2 separate regions of the Homo sapiens genome follow, and region 1 is linked to region 2. The links come from fine-mapping of genetic effects on gene expression. A gene starts in region 2. The other region holds a variant in brackets. All regions are shown on one strand. Distances are between the middles of the regions.

Evidence for each region. PIP is the estimated chance that this variant, and not a neighbour inherited with it, causes the effect.
Region 1: its variant is fine-mapped to the expression of CNTNAP1 in whole blood (TOPMed, PIP above 0.99).

What each region holds. Positions count from the first base shown.
Region 1 is chr17:42,883,973-42,893,189 of GRCh38, reverse strand. It overlaps LINC00671 (long intergenic non-protein coding RNA 671), which reads left to right. Exons shown (of 6, transcript NR_027254.1): 3 at 8,504-8,595. It also overlaps the pseudogene RNU6-287P. Among named protein-coding and RNA genes, the nearest start is that of LINC00671, 10 kb to the left of the region's middle. The variant C/T (reference allele first, on the strand shown) is at 5,178.
Region 2 is chr17:42,678,156-42,687,372 of GRCh38, reverse strand. It overlaps CNTNAP1 (contactin associated protein 1), which reads right to left and starts at 4,842. Exons shown (of 24, transcript NM_003632.3): 1 at 4,477-4,842; 2 at 3,451-3,552; 3 at 3,144-3,337; 4 at 2,235-2,382; 5 at 1,953-2,156; 6 at 1,232-1,416; 7 at 327-470. The coding sequence starts at 4,543. CCR10 (C-C motif chemokine receptor 10) reads left to right here and starts at 5,530. Exons shown (of 2, transcript NM_016602.3): 1 at 5,530-5,573; 2 at 6,756-8,484. The coding sequence starts at 5,550. The coding sequence ends at 7,820. RefSeq lists silencers at 3,308-3,602, 5,848-6,142, 8,819-8,908 and enhancers at 4,388-4,437, 4,698-4,747, 4,691-5,309, 6,528-7,376, 7,377-8,225 and 1 more.

The sequences.
Region 1 (9,217 bases), 210 kb before region 2:
GAAACTGTACCCCCGCCATGGGCATCACCGGATTTTAAAAAAGAAATAAAATTTAACAACTGTGCAACCTTGGCCAAATCACTGGAGTCTCTGGGGTTTGCTTTTGTCAACTGTAAAATGAGACCCAGGGACCCTCACCCTCTTTTCAGCTTTGATATTCTGAGTAGTGGCAGTCCTTTGAACGTAGTTCCAATGAAGTGGTGCCTGGCTTTGAATTATCTAACAGAAGTAAATGATTAATGATTGCCAGAACAAAAAGATAAATGTGTTCATATTTTAAAAATTATTATTATTATTATTATTTTGAGACAGGGTCTCCCTCTGTCGCCCAGGCTTGAGTGCAGTGGTGCGATCTCTGCTTACTGCAACTTCCGGCTCCTGGGTTCAAGCAACTCTCCTGCTTCAGCCTCCCGAGTAGTTAGGATTACAGGCACGCGCCACCACGCCCGGCTAACTTTTTGCATTTTTAGTAGAGATGGGGTTTCACCATGTTGCCCAGGTTGTTTTTGAACTCCTGAGCTCAGATGATCCATCCATCTCGGCCTCCCAAAGTGCTGGGATTACAGGTGTGAGTCACTATGCTTGGCCTTTTTTTTTTTTTTTTTTTTTGAGACAGGGTCTCACTCTGTTACCCAGGCTGGAGTACAGGGGCACAATCTTGGCTCATTGGAACCTCCTCCTCCCGGGTTCAAGTGATTCTTGTGCCTCAGCCACTTGAGTAGCCAGGACTACAGGCACAGGCCACCAGGGCCTGACTAATTTTTGTTTTTTTTTCAGTAGAGATGGGGTTTCACCACATTGGCCAGGCTAGTCTCGAACTCCCAAACTCAGGCGATCTACCCGCCTCGGCCTCCCAAAGTTCTGGGATTACAGGAGTGAGCCTAAAATATTTTCAAAAGTAATACACTCACATTATTAAAAAAATTCAGAGTTCAAAAGAGTATTCTGTGAAGCCAGTCTTCCCCTACCTCTGAATACCTTTTAAACACCAGGGCAGCCAGAACCCAGCCTGATTTGAGGGGCACCATGAGTCAGAGAAGCCCCCATAATTCTCTAGTGAAAGCTCCTCACACAGAACCTGTCGCAATCCAGATGGGGTCATCCCTTCTACCCTCTTTCATTCCCACGTTTTCCTCCCCACCGGCTCTGGCCATGCAGTCCTTTAATCAACTCTTTCTTTAAAAGCAGGGGAAATTCCATCCCAACCAAAACGCCCGTGTTGTACAGTCAGTTATTCGTCCTCCCCTCTTCCAGAGCCAGCTGGGACAGATAATTAGGAAATTAGTAGTCTTGGACCCTTTAACCCACACCTTACCCCCTCTGAGAGTTCTCAAATGAGGACCTTGACTCAGAGAAGGGAAGAGGTGAGGCCCAGAATTGTCATGAAAATAAACAGTGAGGCTCCTAGGTCCCCAGGCCTGGGGGTGGCTATAGAGCTATTCTGAGCTGTGAAAACACAGCAGTACTCTACTAGCAGTAAACAGCCGCCTGTCCCGCCAGCGCCTGTCTGCCTGGTGGTGCCTGATCTCCAGCCAGCAGGCCAGAGAGACAGGGAGAGGAGCAGGGAGAGTCTAGCGTGCCTCTCTTCTTTAGGGTGGAAGGGAACAGCAGTGTTTATTTTTAACATTTCATTCACTCTAGTGGGTGTGAAGTGGAAAGAGAGGGTCATGTAAGTCTAGGGGTTCTCTCCAACTTCGAATCCCAGAAAGCAGGATGCCTGTTGCTCCCTCCTCAAAGCCTGGGGACTTCAGTCATCGCTTTGGCAGCACATATACTAAAATTGCAGTGGTACAGGGAAGATTAGTGTGGGCCCTGCACAAGTCGTGAAATTCGTGAAGCATTCCATACAAAATTTAAATTAAAATAAATAAAATATAAAAAATAAAGCTTGGACCAGCCTCAGTTACATGGCAAAACCCCACCTCTACAAAAAGAAAAAAAAAAAAGAAAAAAGAAACCCACAAAAATTAAACCCACAAAAAACCCCCTAAAAAAAATTAGCTGGGTGTGGTTGTATGTGCCTGTAGTCCCAGCTACTTGAGAGGCTGAGGTGGGAGAACCACTTGAGCCAGGAGGCAGAGGTTGCAATGAGCTGAGATCCCACCACTGCACTCTAGCCTGGGTGACAGAGTGAGACAAACTAACAAATAAAAATAAAGCCTGGGGGCCAGGTGCAGTGGCTCGCGCCTCTAATCCTAGCAGTTTGGGAGGCCGAGGTGGGCGGATCACGAGGTCAGGAGACGGAGGCCATCCTGGCCAACATGGTGAAACCCCGTCTCTACTAAAAATGCAAAAATTAGCTGGGTATGGTGGCATGCCCTGTAGTCCCAGCTACTCAAGAGGCTGAGGCAAGAGAATACCTTGAACCCAGAAAGCGGAGGTTGCAGTAAGCCGAGATCACACCACTGCACTCCAGCCTGGGGACAGAGTGAGACTCTGTCTCAAAAAAATAAAATAAAATAAAATAAAAAAAGAAACCCTGGGCACTTTGGGAGGCCGAGGCGGGTGGATCATGAGGTCAGGAGATCAAGACCATCCTGGCTAACACGGTGAAACCCCGTCTCTACTAAAAACACAAAAAATTAGCTGGGCATGGTGGCGGGCGCCTGTAGTCCCAGCTACTAGGGAGGCTGAGGCAGGAGATTGGCGTGAACCCAGGAGGCAGAGCTTGCAGTGAGCCAAAATCGCACCACTGCACTCCAGCCTGGGCGACAGAGCGAGACTCCGTCTCAAAAAAAAAAAAAGAAAAAAAGAAAAGAAAGCCTGGGGACTTCAGCCTCCTCTGCTCTCCTAGGAAGTCACCTGTGACCTCCTCATTGTCAAATCAGCTGGTTGGCCTCTACTCATCTTTCTTCTTCCTTAATCATTTGGCCACATCTAATACTTGACTGTTAAGCACCTTGAAACACTGTGTTCAGTGTTGCTTTGACAAAGTCTCCTCTCCTTTCTCTTCCTCCTCCTTCCTTAGCATGACGTTAGACCTTGGTTGGACACCACCTGGATGTCCCATACAGTCCCCACATCCATAGGGTCCCTTCACACCTGTTGTTGCTCAGACTCCCCTGCTTTGTAAATGAATCTCCTGCTCTCTGCCATCCTCTGGGCAGTGAGCCTGGCAACTTCGGAGCCAACCTTGACACCTCTTCATGTCACATTTGCAGTCACTCATCAGGATCTGTCCAGATACTTTCTACTCGTGCTGCCCCGGGCCAACCCCATTGCCTAGGCCCGCCCCCTCCCCGCCGCCCGCCCACAGTCCCTTCATTACCTGTGATCACCTCTCCTCTTCTTGCTCCCCACCCCAAGCCATCCTATAGAATACAGGCCAAGGAGTCTTCTTACAATACAGTTCTTTTCACTTGTCACCTGAAAAATATTCAGTGGCTCCCCATTGCCTACAGAATGAAGTTCAAACTGAAGTTCAAACACAAGCTCACCTGCATTGGACCCCAGCTTATCTTTCTAGTTTTATGCTGTGCAGTTCCCCTTGATGGCCACACACCAGATATATTAGATAAGTTTGGATTTCCCAAACATGCCTTGGTTTTTCCAACTTTGCTTTTTCCTCCACCTGGAATATCATTTTCCCCATGTCTGTATGACCAGATTCTAACCACACTTCAAGGTCAAGAAAATAAAGCCTTCTCAACCCATTGACCTCCACCCCTCATTAGCTGCAAAAGATCTGTCTGGTTTGAACTCCTACGTTGGGGCACTTATCGCATTCAGACCTTGCATCATAATGGTTTTGCTTGCATCTTAACCTGCTATCCTGAGCCCCGAGGGCCAAGAAAGCATTCCTTCCAGCCTCCAGAACTGAGCTCTGCTTACATGTCTGGTGCCCAGTATAGTACACTGTTCGCACGGCTGTGAAAATGCTCCCATCCCTGACGTGTGCTCTTTTGCATTGTGACTTTGCCTCTCTTCCCATCAAGATGTAAATGTCTTCATCCTTTGAATCTGGGCTTGATCTTGTGACTTGCCTTGGCTAATGGGACATTAACAAATGTGATATAAGTAGGCCAGGTGTGGTGGCCCACACCCATAATCCCAGCACTTTGGGGAGGCCGAGGCGGGCAGATCACTTGAGGTCAGGAGTTCAAGACCAGCCTGGCCAACATGGTGAAACCCTGTCTCTACTAAAAATACGAAAATTAGCCGGCTCTGGTGGCGGGGACCTGCAGTCCCAGCTACTCAAGAGGCTGAGGGAGGAGAATTGCTTGAACCTGGGAGGCGGAGATTGCCGTGGGCTGAGATCGCGCCACTGCACTCCAGCCTGGGTGACAGAGTGAGACTGTCTCAGAAAAACAAACAAACAACAAAAAACAAATGTGATCTAAGCAAAAGCTTGAAAAGCCAGGGCTTACCCTCTTTGGGCTACAATTGGAACCCCAGCTCACAAGGGGGAGAAGTCCGGGCAGCCTCCTGGAGACAGGTTACTACAACATGGGGCCTGTCTGACAGCCACCCCCAGTCACCAGCGCTGAGAGTGAGGCCGCCTTAGACCACCCAGCCCCAGTCCATGTGAGTGATCCATGGAGCAATCCCAGGAGAATCTGGCAGAACTGCCCAACAGAGCCTGAGCCAGGTTGCTGACCTACAGAACTGTGAGCAAGGTATTGGTTTGTTGTTTTAAGCCACTATGTTTTCGGGTGGTTTCCTTTTTCTTTCCTTCTATTTTTTTTTTTTAGAGACAGTGTTTTGCTCTGCTGCCTAGGCCAGAGTGCAATGGTGCAATCCATCATAGCTCACTGCAGCCCTGAATTCCTGAGCTCAAGAGATCATCCTGCCTCAGCCTCCCAAGTAGCCAGGACTACAAGTGCTTGCTACCACACCCGGCTAACTTAACAAAATTTCTTTGGTAGAAACAGGGTCTTACTGGAGTGTCCATGCTGGTCTTGAACTCCTGGGCTCAAGGAATCCTCCTGCATCGGCCTCCCAAAGTATGGGGATTATAGATGTGAGCTACCGTGGTTTCCTTACACAGTCACTTCAATACCTCATAGATGCTACTTAATAAAATATTAAATAATAGCTCACATTCATTGAGCATTTACTATAAGCTAGGGACTTGTTCTGAAAAATTACATGGGCCAGACACGGTGGCTCACGCCTGTAATCCCAGCACTTTGGGAGGCCAAGGCGGGCGGATCATGAGGTCAGGAGATTGAGACCAT[C/T]CTGGCTAACATGGTGAAACCCCGTCTCTACTAAAAATACAAAAAATTAGCCAGGTGTGGTGGTGGGCGCCTGTAGTCCCAGCTACTCCGGAGGCTGAGGCAGAAGAATGGCATGAACCTGGGAAGCAGAGCTTGCAGTGAGCCGAGATCATGCCACTGCACTCAAGCCTGGGTGACAGAACGAGACTCCATTTCAAAAAAAAAAAAAAAGAAAAATTACATGGATTTACTAATTTAATTTTCATAAAAATCCTGAGGTAGATTTTATTACTGTTCCCCTTTTACAAGTGAGGAAAGTGAAGTCCAGAGAAGTTAAATAACTTGTTCAAGGTCACATGTGTCACATGTGCTGGATCCAAACCCCAGGAACCTAGTTCCAGAAGCCACACTGTAAACCACTATACCGCATTGCCTCTGCTTACGCAGATTGAGGAGAACATGACTGATTTGCAGCCCCCAAAACACCCATCTTCACCCACATGTCAAATTCTATATTATTTTGTGGTCCAATTTCTAGCCTATGCTTTTTTTTTTTTTTTTTTTGAGACAGCGTTTTCCTCTTGTTGCCCAGGCTGGAGTGCAATGGCGCGATCTTGGCTCACTGCAGACTCCGCCTCTCAGGTTCAAGTGATTCTCCTGGCTCAGCCTCCCGAGTAGCTGGGATTACAGGCATGTGCCACCATGCCCAGCTAATTTTTTTTTATATTTTTAGTAGAGATGGGTTTCACCATGTTGTCCAGGCTGGTCTTGACCTCCTGACCTCAGGTGATCCACCTGCCTCGGCCTCCCAAAGTGCTGGGATTACAGGCACGATCCGCTGTGCCTGGCCTAGCCTATGCTTCTAATCTTCCCACACCCTGCCCTCTCAGGTCTACCTCCAGGCTCTGGGCTACTCCTGGCCTGTTTCAGTGACAGCCCATTGTGGGGCATCGATTTATAGATCTGCCAGCAACCGCCTGTCCAGAAACCCTTTGGCTCCATCTCCCTCTTCCTGCTGCCTCTGCTGCATTGCTGGTCCAGCGGTGCAGGTCTCATCTGGAAAGCAAACGCCTGGGCTCAGCGTGTCAGTGCTGACCGACCTTTGGCCCTGTGTCCTGGCTTGACCCGTGCAGCCAGGGTGATTTTTCACTTAGGATCTTTGGATGTCCTTAGAGCTTCTCTTTTGAAGTAGTCCAATGAGCAAATGGATATGATGTGGCTTTTAAAGAGAAAAACATGACTCATGTATAACAATGTTTACTATTTATTCAAATTTCAAAGATGTATTTAAGCATCCACACACGGGCACAACACCATGCTGGGCACCAGGCCACCAAAGCCAGGTTCAGTGTGGGGAGTGAGGGGAGGACACACGTGGTCAAGGAACTAGAGTTCAGTTTGTGAACCTCCATGGCAGAGTTCTGTCCAAAGTACTATGGGAGCAGAGACAACAAAGTAAATAATGTTGTTCAGGGAAAGGTCGAGAGAGTGGGATTCGAGTTGGGTTTTAGACAGTGAATAAGCTGTCACTAGATGGAGAAGGAAGAGGAAAGAGGAAGGAAGCAGAGGAAGGAAGGGAGGGAGGAGTCGGAACACATGGGCAGAGGCTTAGTGGGTGGGAATAGGCTGTTTGAAGGAGGACACACGTCTGGGGTGTCTGGGGTGTAAGCATCACGATGACTGCGGTGTAGGGACTGAACCCAGGTATGTGAATGACCTAATATTCCCTGCAGAGAGTGAGAAGCTCTGTGGATTTATAAGAGGGATATTGGCCAGGGAAAAACTATAGGAGGGGGCCAGGCATAGTTGCTCACACCTATAAACCCAGTGCTTTCAGAGGCCAAGGCAGGAAGATCCATTGAGCTCAAGGTTCAAGACCAGCCTGGGCAACATAAGGAGACTCTGTCTCTACAAAATATTTAAAAATTATCTGGGTATGGTGGTGCACACTTGTAATCCCAGTGACTCAGGAGGCTGAGGCAGGAGGATTGCTTGGGCCTGGGAGGCTGAGGCTGCAGTGAGCTGTGATCGCACCACTGCACTCCAGCCTGAGTGATGGAGCGAGACCCTGTTGAAAAAAAAAAAAAAAGCCAGTGGTGGTGGCATGCGTTTATAGTCCCAGCTACTCAGGAGGCTGAGTTGGGAGGATCACTTGAGCCCAGGAGGTTTAGGCTGCAGTGAGCCAAGATTGAACCACTGCACTCCAGTCTGGGTGACACAGAAACACCTTGTCTCAGAAAACAAACAGGCTGGGCACAGTGGCTCAAGCCTGTAATCCCAGCACTTTGGGAGGCTAAGGTGGGTAGATCACCTGGGGTCAGGAGTTCGAGACCAGCCTGAACAACATGGTGAAACCCCATCTCCATTAAAAATACAAAAATTAGCTGAGCGTGGTGGCGGGCGCCTGTAATCCCAGCTACTCAATAAGCTGAGGCAGGAGAATCACTTCAACCTGGAGGCGGAGGTTGCAGTGAACCAAGATCGCGCCACTGCATTCCAGCCTGGGTGACAGAGTGAGACTCTGTCTCAAAAACAAAAACAAAAACAAAACAAAACAACAACAAAAACAAAACAATACAAAAAGCCAAAACTATAGGAGAGGAGGGAAGGAGGCGAGGAATTTGCTGACATGGAGTCTCTGCTCTGAAAGTTAGACGTGAAGTCCGTGGCTAGGCTGGTTGCATCAGATGAGGCTGGCTGACATCTCCCAAGATATCTCAAGATGGTTTATTGGTGAATTCACCCCACTCCAAGGGAGAAGCCTGAATCAGAAACCAGATTCCTCAGCTCACCAATGGGAATTGTCTTTCAGGGAAGGTCTATATATACCAAAATTACACCTGAAGGTCAATCTGTTGATTTACTGTAACTGTCAAAGCAAAAGTAATTCTTATTAGAATGTCAATTAGTTCATTTACAAAAAGAGATGTAAGTGATGTGTCCATTTTCTTCCCATCACCATGATGTGGTGGGAAGCTGGCCTGTCGAGCTGGGAATCAGAACCAGCAGTTGGTCACAATATAGCTTCAATAAGGCCCGATGACTCCATGTGCATGGCTAAAGTGCCTCTAGGACAGGACGTGTCCTGGCCCTGGCCAGGTCCTCTGCTCCAAATGTGGCTGATTGTCACTGTCAGGGCAGGCTCTGTGATGCTCTCTTTCTGAGGGAGACGGGGTCTTCTCACTCTGTCGCCCAGGCTGTAGTGCAGTGGCATGATCTTGGCTAACTGCAGCCTCTGCCTCCCAGGCTCAAATGATCCTCCCACCTCAGCCTCCCTAGTAGCTGGGACCACAGGTGCATGTCACCATCCTGGCTAATTTTTTTTTTTTTTTTTGGTATTTTTGTAGAGAGAGGGTTTTGCCATGTTGCCAGGCTGGTCTCGAACTCCTGGACTCAAGTGATCTGCCTGCCTCAGCCTCCCAAAGTGCTGGAATTATAGGTGAGACACTGTGCCTGGCCCCTTTCTGCACCTTCTGATGGACACATTCTTTATGTCTTAGACTCTCTAGTCAGCTTCCTCTTGGGAGGCTTGGAACTGAACTACCATCTCCAGAGTTCTCCCAACCTTGGCTACACAGTAGAATCACCCGGGGAAATTTAAAAGCCAGTCATGTCTGTGGTTTGCCCCCAGAGGCTCTGATCATATCAGGCTGAGGCGCAGTCCGAGTATGTGGAGTTTTACAAGCTTCCCAGGTGATTTCAATGTGCAGTCAAGGTTGAGCACCTTTGTGAAAAGCAGCTCTGCATATTTCTGCCCTTGTCATTTGAGTGATGACTTTGCTCTGAGAGGGTCACTTAATATGGATCAGGTGCCAAGGGTTTCTCAAGCATTACCTTGTTTCATTCTTTTTTTTTTTCTTACAATATTCAGATGAGTCTGATACCTTGTTTAATTCTTCAAACAGGCCTACCAGGCAGTGGAAAAAGAGCCACGGCCCAGGGAAGGCCGTGAGGTGTAATTCTGCAAAGATCTGGGTTCACTCCCAGCCCCACCTTTTACCAGCCAGATGACTGTGGGCATGTTTCCTAATCTCTCTGAATTGTAGTTTCTGCATCTGTGA
Region 2 (9,217 bases):
CATATCAGAGAAGCCATCGGTTCAAGTCCCTACTCAGCCACCGTGCAGCTGCACGACCCCTGGACAAGCCACTCCCTGTGTCTGCGCCTTACTTTCTTCATCTATGAACTAAGAAGGTGATTGGACCCGACCACTGCTTCTTAACTAGGGGCCTGCGTGGCTCATGCACCTCAGGTGAGACCCGCTCCCCTCCCAACTTGAGCATCTGGCTGGGGACAGAGGGATTCTCCGCTTTTATCTGATGTTCAATATCTCTTCCCGCTCCACCTCTTTGCTTTCCACGACGCTTTGATATCCTGTCCTCCCAGACCCCCCTGCCCACTGGCCTCGAAGGTGATCCGGGAATGGCGCCGCACGGCCAGGTCTGCGATGTTGACGCGGTTGAAGATTACGTTTTCTATGCAGCCGCGGAAGTTATGCCGATAGGCCAGGTTCTTCCGCGCGGCGCCCACCAGACCTCCGATGAACATCTGCGGGAGGCGTGGGGAATGAGGCCTCTTGGGCACAGGAGGGCGCCTGCCTTTCTCGCGCGTCCCCGCCGTATGCTTTCCCAAATGCCAGATGGGGTTTTGTAAAAGACTTAAAACACACATTTCCCCAGTGTCGGTACTAAAGCTCGCTAGGCCTTTCAAGGCTTGAGTTCAAGCTCTGACTCCAACACAAATCGGCTGCACGCCCTTGGGCAAGTCAATTAGCCTGCCTGGGATTCTTATCTGCAGATGGGGTCAGGGTCTTTAACAACTCCACAAAGTTGTGGGAGGATCCAAGGGAACAATTTTCCTACCTTGCCTAGTCCCCAAAATCTGAATTTCCAAACCCCATCTCATTAGTTCTGAAATAGTGCCTGGGAGTCTGCATGCTAACAGCAACAACACCCACAAAAAAAAAAAAAAAAAAAAAAAACAGGCCTTTTTCTGGTGAGTGGCAAGTTTGCCAAGGGCTGCTAGGATATTCAGGAATTGGAATGCGAGGTCTTTGAAAAAAAAAATTTTTTTAAATAGAGGTAGGATGTCACTATGTTGCCCAGGTGAGTCTTGAACACCTGGCCTCAAGCAATCCTCCCACCTCAGCCTCCCAAAGTGCTGGGATTACAGGCATGAGCCACCACCCACAGCCTGAATGCCAGGTCTTTCCTCTGAGAGACAGAGGAAAAGAGAAAGGGAGAGACCGACCTGCACTCACTCATCCAGCATCTACCCTACCACGAAATAGCACCTCCCTAGTCTCTCACCTCAGTGTCCAGGTTCAGCCTCTCGAAGTCTCCATTGAGAATAAAGCGCTGCACATAGCCGTCCAGGGTGAAATTTACATCGCGGCCAAATCGGTCCACCCGCACATAGTGCCAGTGCTGGTCATTGAGGACTCCGCCTGCGCTCACGGTGGTGTGACCTGGTCTTGGCTGGATAGGGCTGCTGCCTGAGGGTGGGGCAGGACAGAGTGAAACCTCAAGCCAGGAGAACTCCATGGAGTCCAAGCTCCTAGGCAGAGCAGCAGCGTGTAACAAAGCCCAGGGCAATCAGGGAGAGTGGGCGAATAGATCAACAGCCATTGGCGAGTGTGTGACAGGGTAAGCCATTTAGCCTGGCTTCCTGTCTGTAAAACTGGGAACACATGAGCTGCTTCTATTTCATGTGCGGGTGTTATGAAAAGCTAATGAGATACAATGTGTGTGCGTCTGTGTGTGTGTGTTTACAAGGAGGGAACTGAGGCTCGGAAGTGCCCCATCCGAGGTCACATCTCTGTGTAGTGGTAGAGCTGAGACTGGAATCCAGTTCTCACTCAACTCCAGTGTTTTGCTAGCACCAAATGCTACAAGAAAGGGGCAGTTTGGTCCAGGCCTTAGAGAAGTGGAAGACCAGGCTGAGCGCGGATGCGCGGAGGAGGTGCCACGAGGAGGGCGGTGAGAGAGCTTCAGGGGTTGGCTCCGCATCGCACATGGTCGCCGAGCTCACCCAGGCTCATGTGCAGCAGCAGGTGTGCCCCCTCCAGCTCGAGCGTCACGTAGTCGCCCTGGGCGCCCTCGGCGTGCAGCAGAAGACCGTCCTTCTCCTCGGTCTTGAAGCTGAAGGCGAACACGTCCCACAGGCTTCGGCTGACCCCTCGCGGGAAGCGGTAGGAGATGGCATCGTCGCCGTCGAAATAGAGTATGTCGGCCTCTGCGCAAAGGACCGTAGGTGGGCCGGGAACTGGGGAGGCTGTCTCCCAGGCCCCCTCCGCGCTCTCTGCACACTTACTGTATGGGCAGCCATAGAGGCCGAGCCTCAGGCCGATCTTGCCGCGTGGGTTCCAGGCCAGGGGCACGATGCGGATGTAGCGCGCAGTGAAGTGGAAGTGCAGGTCATGGCGCACCACCGCCGACTCGTTCACGTTACCAAAGAAGGTCTGCGGGGGTGGAGGAGAGTAGTAACCACGTCCTGCCCTCTGCTTCTTTTTTTTATTTTATTTTTTGAGACAGAGTCTCGCTCTGTCGCCCAGGCTGGAGTGCGGTGGTACGATCTCGGCTCACCGCAACCTCTGCCTCCCGGGTTCAAACAATTCTCTTCCTCAGCCTCCCAAGTAGCTGGGATTACAGGCGCCCGCCACTACGCCCGGCTGATTTTTTTGTATTTTTCATAGAGACGGGGTTTCACCATGTTGGCCAGGCTGGTCATGAACTCCTGACCTCGTGATCCACCTGCCTCGGCCTCCCAAAGTGCTGGGATTACAGGCGTGAGCCACTGCGCCCGGCCCCCCTCTGCTTCTTTCTCCATAGCCTCCCAGCCCACAACTTTCACACCCAGCCAATCTCGACTTCTGGAAAGTAAACACTCCTTGGTCTTCCCTGCTTGGCGGCTTTGCCCGCACAGTTTCCATAAAGTGCCCTGTCCCACAATCCTATTATTTCCTCAGACCTGAAATCAAATGTCACCTCCTTAGGAAGCTCTCCCAGGTTTTACCCTAAAGTGTGTTAAACCCTGTGAACCGAGTGTTTCGCGCACGTCCTAAGCTGACAGTCCCTCTGGACAGAGTCCCTGGAGTGGAGTCACTGCTCCTTGTCCGAGCCCTCACCACCACCCCCTCCATTTTCCCAGAGGCTGGTGCCCGGCCCAGAGCCTGGAGCAGAGGAAGCTCCCCAAGTGTTACCGCCTTGGCGCCCAGAGTACCGAGTTGTGCCCTCGCTGGTAGAACGGTGTCCAGCTGTCCACTCGGTCGCCGTAGAGTAGCATGTAACGTGTGACCCAGTCCCAAGAATTAAAGGAGCCCTGTGTGGCCACGGCCCGGATCCGGTGCTTCTTCATTAAGTCTATCTGGAGCCAGGGATTCGGATCCCCAATCCGTGGTGACCACCCGCTTATGCCTATAGAAAGGACAGGAGCTTTAACCGGCTATCCCTCTCCCCGAAGTCCTCCGGAGGCCCCCACCCTTCCGCGGTGCGCTGCCAGTTGGCAGCTGATGTTCCGCGGAGCTCACCGTGCAGCCTGGCGAATCTCGGCGCAGTAAGGAGACTGTAGTAGGAGGAGGCGCCCAGGGAGCGTGCATACAGGGGACCCACCAGCTCCTCGTCGCAGCCGTCTAGGGTAGGGAAACCGACTGTTAGTCAGCGCTGGCCCCTCCCAGACCCTTCCAAAGGCCGGCCCACTTAGCGACCGAAGCTTCCCCTTCCGTGCCCCCAACCCCCGCCCCCAGAGGCACACCCAGCCCTACCTTAAAGCCATCTATTCAATCCTGGCTGCAGCAACAGCTGCATGCTCAGAGGAGGCTACCTTCTCCTTCTAGGCAAACCCCTAGGCTACACCTATAGGCCCAAGGCCAGACCCTCCCTAGCTAGCCCAATACCTGCCCTGGTTTAGTACTTTCCCAAACTCAATCCTAAACCTCAGCATCTTCCACAACCTAAGTCAACCCAAGACACCAATCCAGCTCCAACCCTAGCCTCAATCCAACTCGGCCCCCAAAACCTGCACCATCCCCAAATACAGGCCTTGCACCCAACCTCAGCCAGTGCTAGCACCATCACCAGCTCCATGTCCAGCCTTAGCATCAGTCAGGGGCACCAGCTCCTGCTTGGATCCCTGCCACAAAACCCAGCCCCAGCCACAAACCCCAGCCCTAGCCACAAACCCCACCCCTTGGCCAGCTCCAAAGTCCAGCCTTAAGCCCTGGCAAAACCTTAATCCTAGTATCGGTCACCAGTATACACTTATCCCCCAGCCCTAGCCTCAAACCCAGGCACCAGCTCCTGCTTGGATCCCAACCCCAAATCCCTGCCCGCTGACTTCATCCTCTTCCCAGAGCCCAGCCCCAGCCCCGGGCGCGCGCGGCAGCCTCAGAGCTGCAATGCGGAGCGCGGGGGAGAGGCAGGAAAAGATGAGAGCCAGCGGGCGCGCGCCGGCCGGGAAGGACCCGCGACCACCCAGCCGCAATGCGGTTCGGGGCCGCCCTGCAGGCTCTGGACTCCTGGGCCCAACCCCACCTGCCTCCAAGCCCAACACTCACAGTAGCCCCAGCCCTCGGCTCCTGAGACCGCGGCGAGCAGGATGCAGAAGAGCCGGAGATGCATCATGCAGGGCTGACGGTCCCGGCAGCCGCCTCCCTGTGAACGGCTCCGGCTAGGGCTCGAGTTCTGGCTTGGGCTCCAAGCTCTCCTCCTGGGGTTTGCAGCAGACCGCTCTCTCCTCCTTACCCACCCTTCCCTCCCTCTCTCCTTTCGCCCCCAAGCGCTCTGTCTCTCCTCTCTCTTTTCTCTCTCTCTCTCTCTGGTTCCTGGTCCTCCGCTCTTCTCTCTCTATCCTCTCCTTTCCACCCTCTTTCCTCTCACCTCCCCCCTTCCCCAGCCTCTGTCTCCTGGCACGCGCCGGTTTCCCGGACCCCGCGCAAGCGCGTGCCTCAGCCCTGCTGCGAAAGGGCGGGGGTAGAGAGCCTCTCGCCACCGGGAAAACCCCAAGTAACCCGAGGCTGCCCGGGACTAGGGCCACAGGAGTGAGGACAGGGAACCTAGGGCCAGAAGCATCCTGAAAATTTCAAGAAAAGGGAGGTGGTTTGGGGGAGGGGTGCCTGGAAATGGAATGAAGGGTAAGTAAAAGAATCTTAACATTTTCGGAAGGCAAATTATGCTCTAGGAGTGGTGCTGGGCACTGTGAATTTAGCATTTTTGCCCTACTCCACTTTGCAGATGAAAAACCTCAGGCTCAGAGAGGTCAAGAAACTTAGTCAATATCACACAGCAAATGATTATATTCCGAAGCCCGTTCTTTCTTCACTGACAAAGACAGTAAATTATTTTTTCTTTCTTTCGTTCATTCTTTTTTCTTTCTTTCCTTCCTTTTTTTCTTTCTTTCTTTCTTTCTTTCCTCTTTCCTTCCTTTCTTCTTCTTTTTTTTTTTTTCGTAAAATCCAGATCCTGCACAAGAGAGTGAAGTCTTTTGGAGGAGGTGGAATGGGAAAGTGACCCCGTAGACCCTAATCCCCACCTCCCTCTCGGCCCCTCTCCCCGCCTCTTCCTTCCTGTCCCGCTAGTAGTTTAACTTCTACCCCCTGTGGCTATACCTCAGAAACCTGTGTAGCCAGAGATGGGGACGGAGGCCACAGAGCAGGTGGGAGTGGGGGCAGGGAGGGGGAGAAGGGTTACAGAGAGGGAGGAGACAGGGAAGGAATGGGATTCCCCACCTGGCAATGGGCCTCTGCCATCCTATGGCTTATTCAGGATTCTTGGCGCTGTCTCAGACTAGGGGTCCTCCAGATAAATGGGCTGGTGGTGTGAGGCTGGGGTTGTGGGACAGGGACTAGGGCTGAGGGGAAAGGCGGGTTGAACCTAGAGGTCCAGGGTCCCACCTGGGCCCTGAAAACCTGAGTCCCAACCCTGGAGACCCCCTTGGCATGAGTGGTTCAGTGTGCTGGTATTGGAGGTACAGGGAAGGTGGGTATGGAAGGGAAAGAAGAGAAACAGAAACCCACTCCAGACGGAGGTTGGAGTCCAGGGCTCAGGTCTGAGGCAAAGCCTGCATATGGGCATCCTTCCAGGAGAGGGCGCTGCAAAGGGAACTGAAGCTGTAGGATTTATTAATAATACAAACTTTGGGCTGGGCGTGGTAGCTCAGGCCTGTAATCCCAGTACTTTGGGAGGCCAAGGTGGGCGGATCACCTGAGGTCAGGAGTTCGAGACCATCCTGGCCAACATGGTGAAACCCCATCTCTACTAAAAATACAAAAATTAGCTGGGCGTGGTGGTGGGCGCCTGTAGTCCCAGCTACTTGGGAGGCTGAGGCAGGAGAATCTCTTGAACCCGGAGGCGGAGGTTGCAGTGAGCCGAGATCGTGCCACTGCACTCCAGCCTGGGCGACAGAGCAAGACTCTGTCTCCAATAATAATAATAATAAATAATAATAATAATACAAACTTTGTATTATGGCCTTTGGAGAACACAGGTTCTCCCCATCCATTATTTTCCATATTGCCATCTTCACAGCAAACCTTGAGAGGTGGGCTGGTCAGGATTTATAATCTCAACATTACAGGTTAGGTAACTGAGGTCTAGAAAGAGCAAGTGGCTTGCTCAAGGTCACCCAGGAAGCTGGAAGCAGAGGTAGGAGGGGTGCAAGGGAAGCCAAGGCCTGCTGAAGGTGTGCTAGGAAGAGTCTGGAGAAGAGCTTATGTCTCCCCGTGTACTGTTACATCTGGCCACACAGGAGCTCTCAGCTTGGAAGGCAAGTGTGGGCGGGGGAGTTGTGTGGTCAGATGTGTCTCATAAGATCCCGCCTCTCATTTGACCCTCCCAGGTTTCCTGGGGCCATTACTCTGGGGATGAAGAGGACGCATACTCGGCTGAGCCACTGCCGGAGCTTTGCTACAAGGCCGATGTCCAGGCCTTCAGCCGGGCCTTCCAACCCAGTGTCTCCCTGACCGTGGCTGCGCTGGGTCTGGCCGGCAATGGCCTGGTCCTGGCCACCCACCTGGCAGCCCGACGCGCAGCGCGCTCGCCCACCTCTGCCCACCTGCTCCAGCTGGCCCTGGCCGACCTCTTGCTGGCCCTGACTCTGCCCTTCGCGGCAGCAGGGGCTCTTCAGGGCTGGAGTCTGGGAAGTGCCACCTGCCGCACCATCTCTGGCCTCTACTCGGCCTCCTTCCACGCCGGCTTCCTCTTCCTGGCCTGTATCAGCGCCGACCGCTACGTGGCCATCGCGCGAGCGCTCCCAGCCGGGCCGCGGCCCTCCACTCCCGGCCGCGCACACTTGGTCTCCGTCATCGTGTGGCTGCTGTCACTGCTCCTGGCGCTGCCTGCGCTGCTCTTCAGCCAGGATGGGCAGCGGGAAGGCCAACGACGCTGTCGCCTCATCTTCCCCGAGGGCCTCACGCAGACGGTGAAGGGGGCGAGCGCCGTGGCGCAGGTGGCCCTGGGCTTCGCGCTGCCGCTGGGCGTCATGGTAGCCTGCTACGCGCTTCTGGGCCGCACGCTGCTGGCCGCCAGGGGGCCCGAGCGCCGGCGTGCGCTGCGCGTCGTGGTGGCTCTGGTGGCGGCCTTCGTGGTGCTGCAGCTGCCCTACAGCCTCGCCCTGCTGCTGGATACTGCCGATCTACTGGCTGCGCGCGAGCGGAGCTGCCCTGCCAGCAAACGCAAGGATGTCGCACTGCTGGTGACCAGCGGCTTGGCCCTCGCCCGCTGTGGCCTCAATCCCGTTCTCTACGCCTTCCTGGGCCTGCGCTTCCGCCAGGACCTGCGGAGGCTGCTACGGGGTGGGAGCTGCCCCTCAGGGCCTCAACCCCGCCGCGGCTGCCCCCGCCGGCCCCGCCTTTCTTCCTGCTCAGCTCCCACGGAGACCCACAGTCTCTCCTGGGACAACTAGGGCTGCGAATCTAGAGGAGGGGGCAGGCTGAGGGTCGTGGGAAAGGGGAGTAGGTGGGGGAACACTGAGAAAGAGGCAGGGACCTAAAGGGACTACCTCTGTGCCTTGCCACATTAAATTGATAACATGGAAATGAGATGCAACCCAACAACTGTTACTATTTTTGAGTCACCGACTTGGAAGTGATTTGTGGCGGGGCAGAACCGGTGGGTTAACACCCCGCCCCCGCCCCACCCCCCGCCCTGCCCCGCGCTTGGCTCTCTGAGTGGAAGACGCTGAGGGCCTGGGTGGGGGTGGGGGGCTGCTGAGTCTGCTAAAGCTCTAGCCACTGACACCCCCTCCACCGTCACCTGGCCTCAGCCAACAGAGGTGAGGTGGGAAAGCTGCCAGGCAAGGAGGGGCGGTGGTTCCTCTTGCAATACTGTAAGGAAGAGCTTTCTAACAACCAGAGCGCTCTCCAGTAATGGCTGCCTTAGCAAATACTGAGTTCCCGCTATTGGAATGTTCAGACTGTCGGGGACGCTGTGGGCCTTTGCGTGGTGTGGGGGGAGGGGGAGGGGCAGGGGATTCCCGTTTTTGGTGGGCGTTTGGATTTCATAACCACTTTACAATCCCTTCCTAGTGTCTGTGATGGAAAGAAAAAATGAAAAAATGAATTGTAAAATTTGAGTTGAAGTTTTTCCACCTTGAAGAAAAACCTAGGAGGGATTGCAATCTGCAAATTTCCAGAGTAGTTATCACGGGTGTGGTGGGGGTGAGGGATATTTGCTGTTCTCCATCTTCTCTGGGGACTGGGTCAGAGGAAATGCACTGAGCTGGCCGGAAAGAGAGAGGTTGGATATGGGAAAAAACTTCTCTGCAGGCAAGGGCCTGGGATCCAGACCTGGAAGATGGTTGTGGTATCTCCATTCCTAGGTAATCTCTCAGTACAGGCCACTCTCATGTGGAGAGAGGCCACGGCCGAGATGGCCTCCTAGACACGCTCGCATTGATTCCTGGTCTTTGTTTTACACAATCACAACGGGCAGGATGGTGTTCACGTGCGACAGTTCTCGCGGTTTAATATCGGTCAGCAAAGCTGTCCCCACCGCTCCAGCCTGGAGTCTAGGGTCGAGAAGGGCGGGGCGTGGCGAGGAGGTCTCAAGGGAGGTGCTGGCCTGACGGCCCCGCCCGTCCCGCCCTTCCCCGCCCCTCCCCGCCCAGCCCAGCCCTGCCCAGGCTAGCAGTCCTCAGAGCCTCCCGCAGCAGCGGCGAAAAGGGGTCCCCCACGGCCTCTAGGGGCCAGGATCCAGGGAAGGCCCGGAGACGGCGCCGATCCTCAAAGGGTCCCACACGCCAGCCACTGGGGACCGACCTGGAACCCTCCATCCAAGATCTCTGGAATCGCCGCTGAGTCA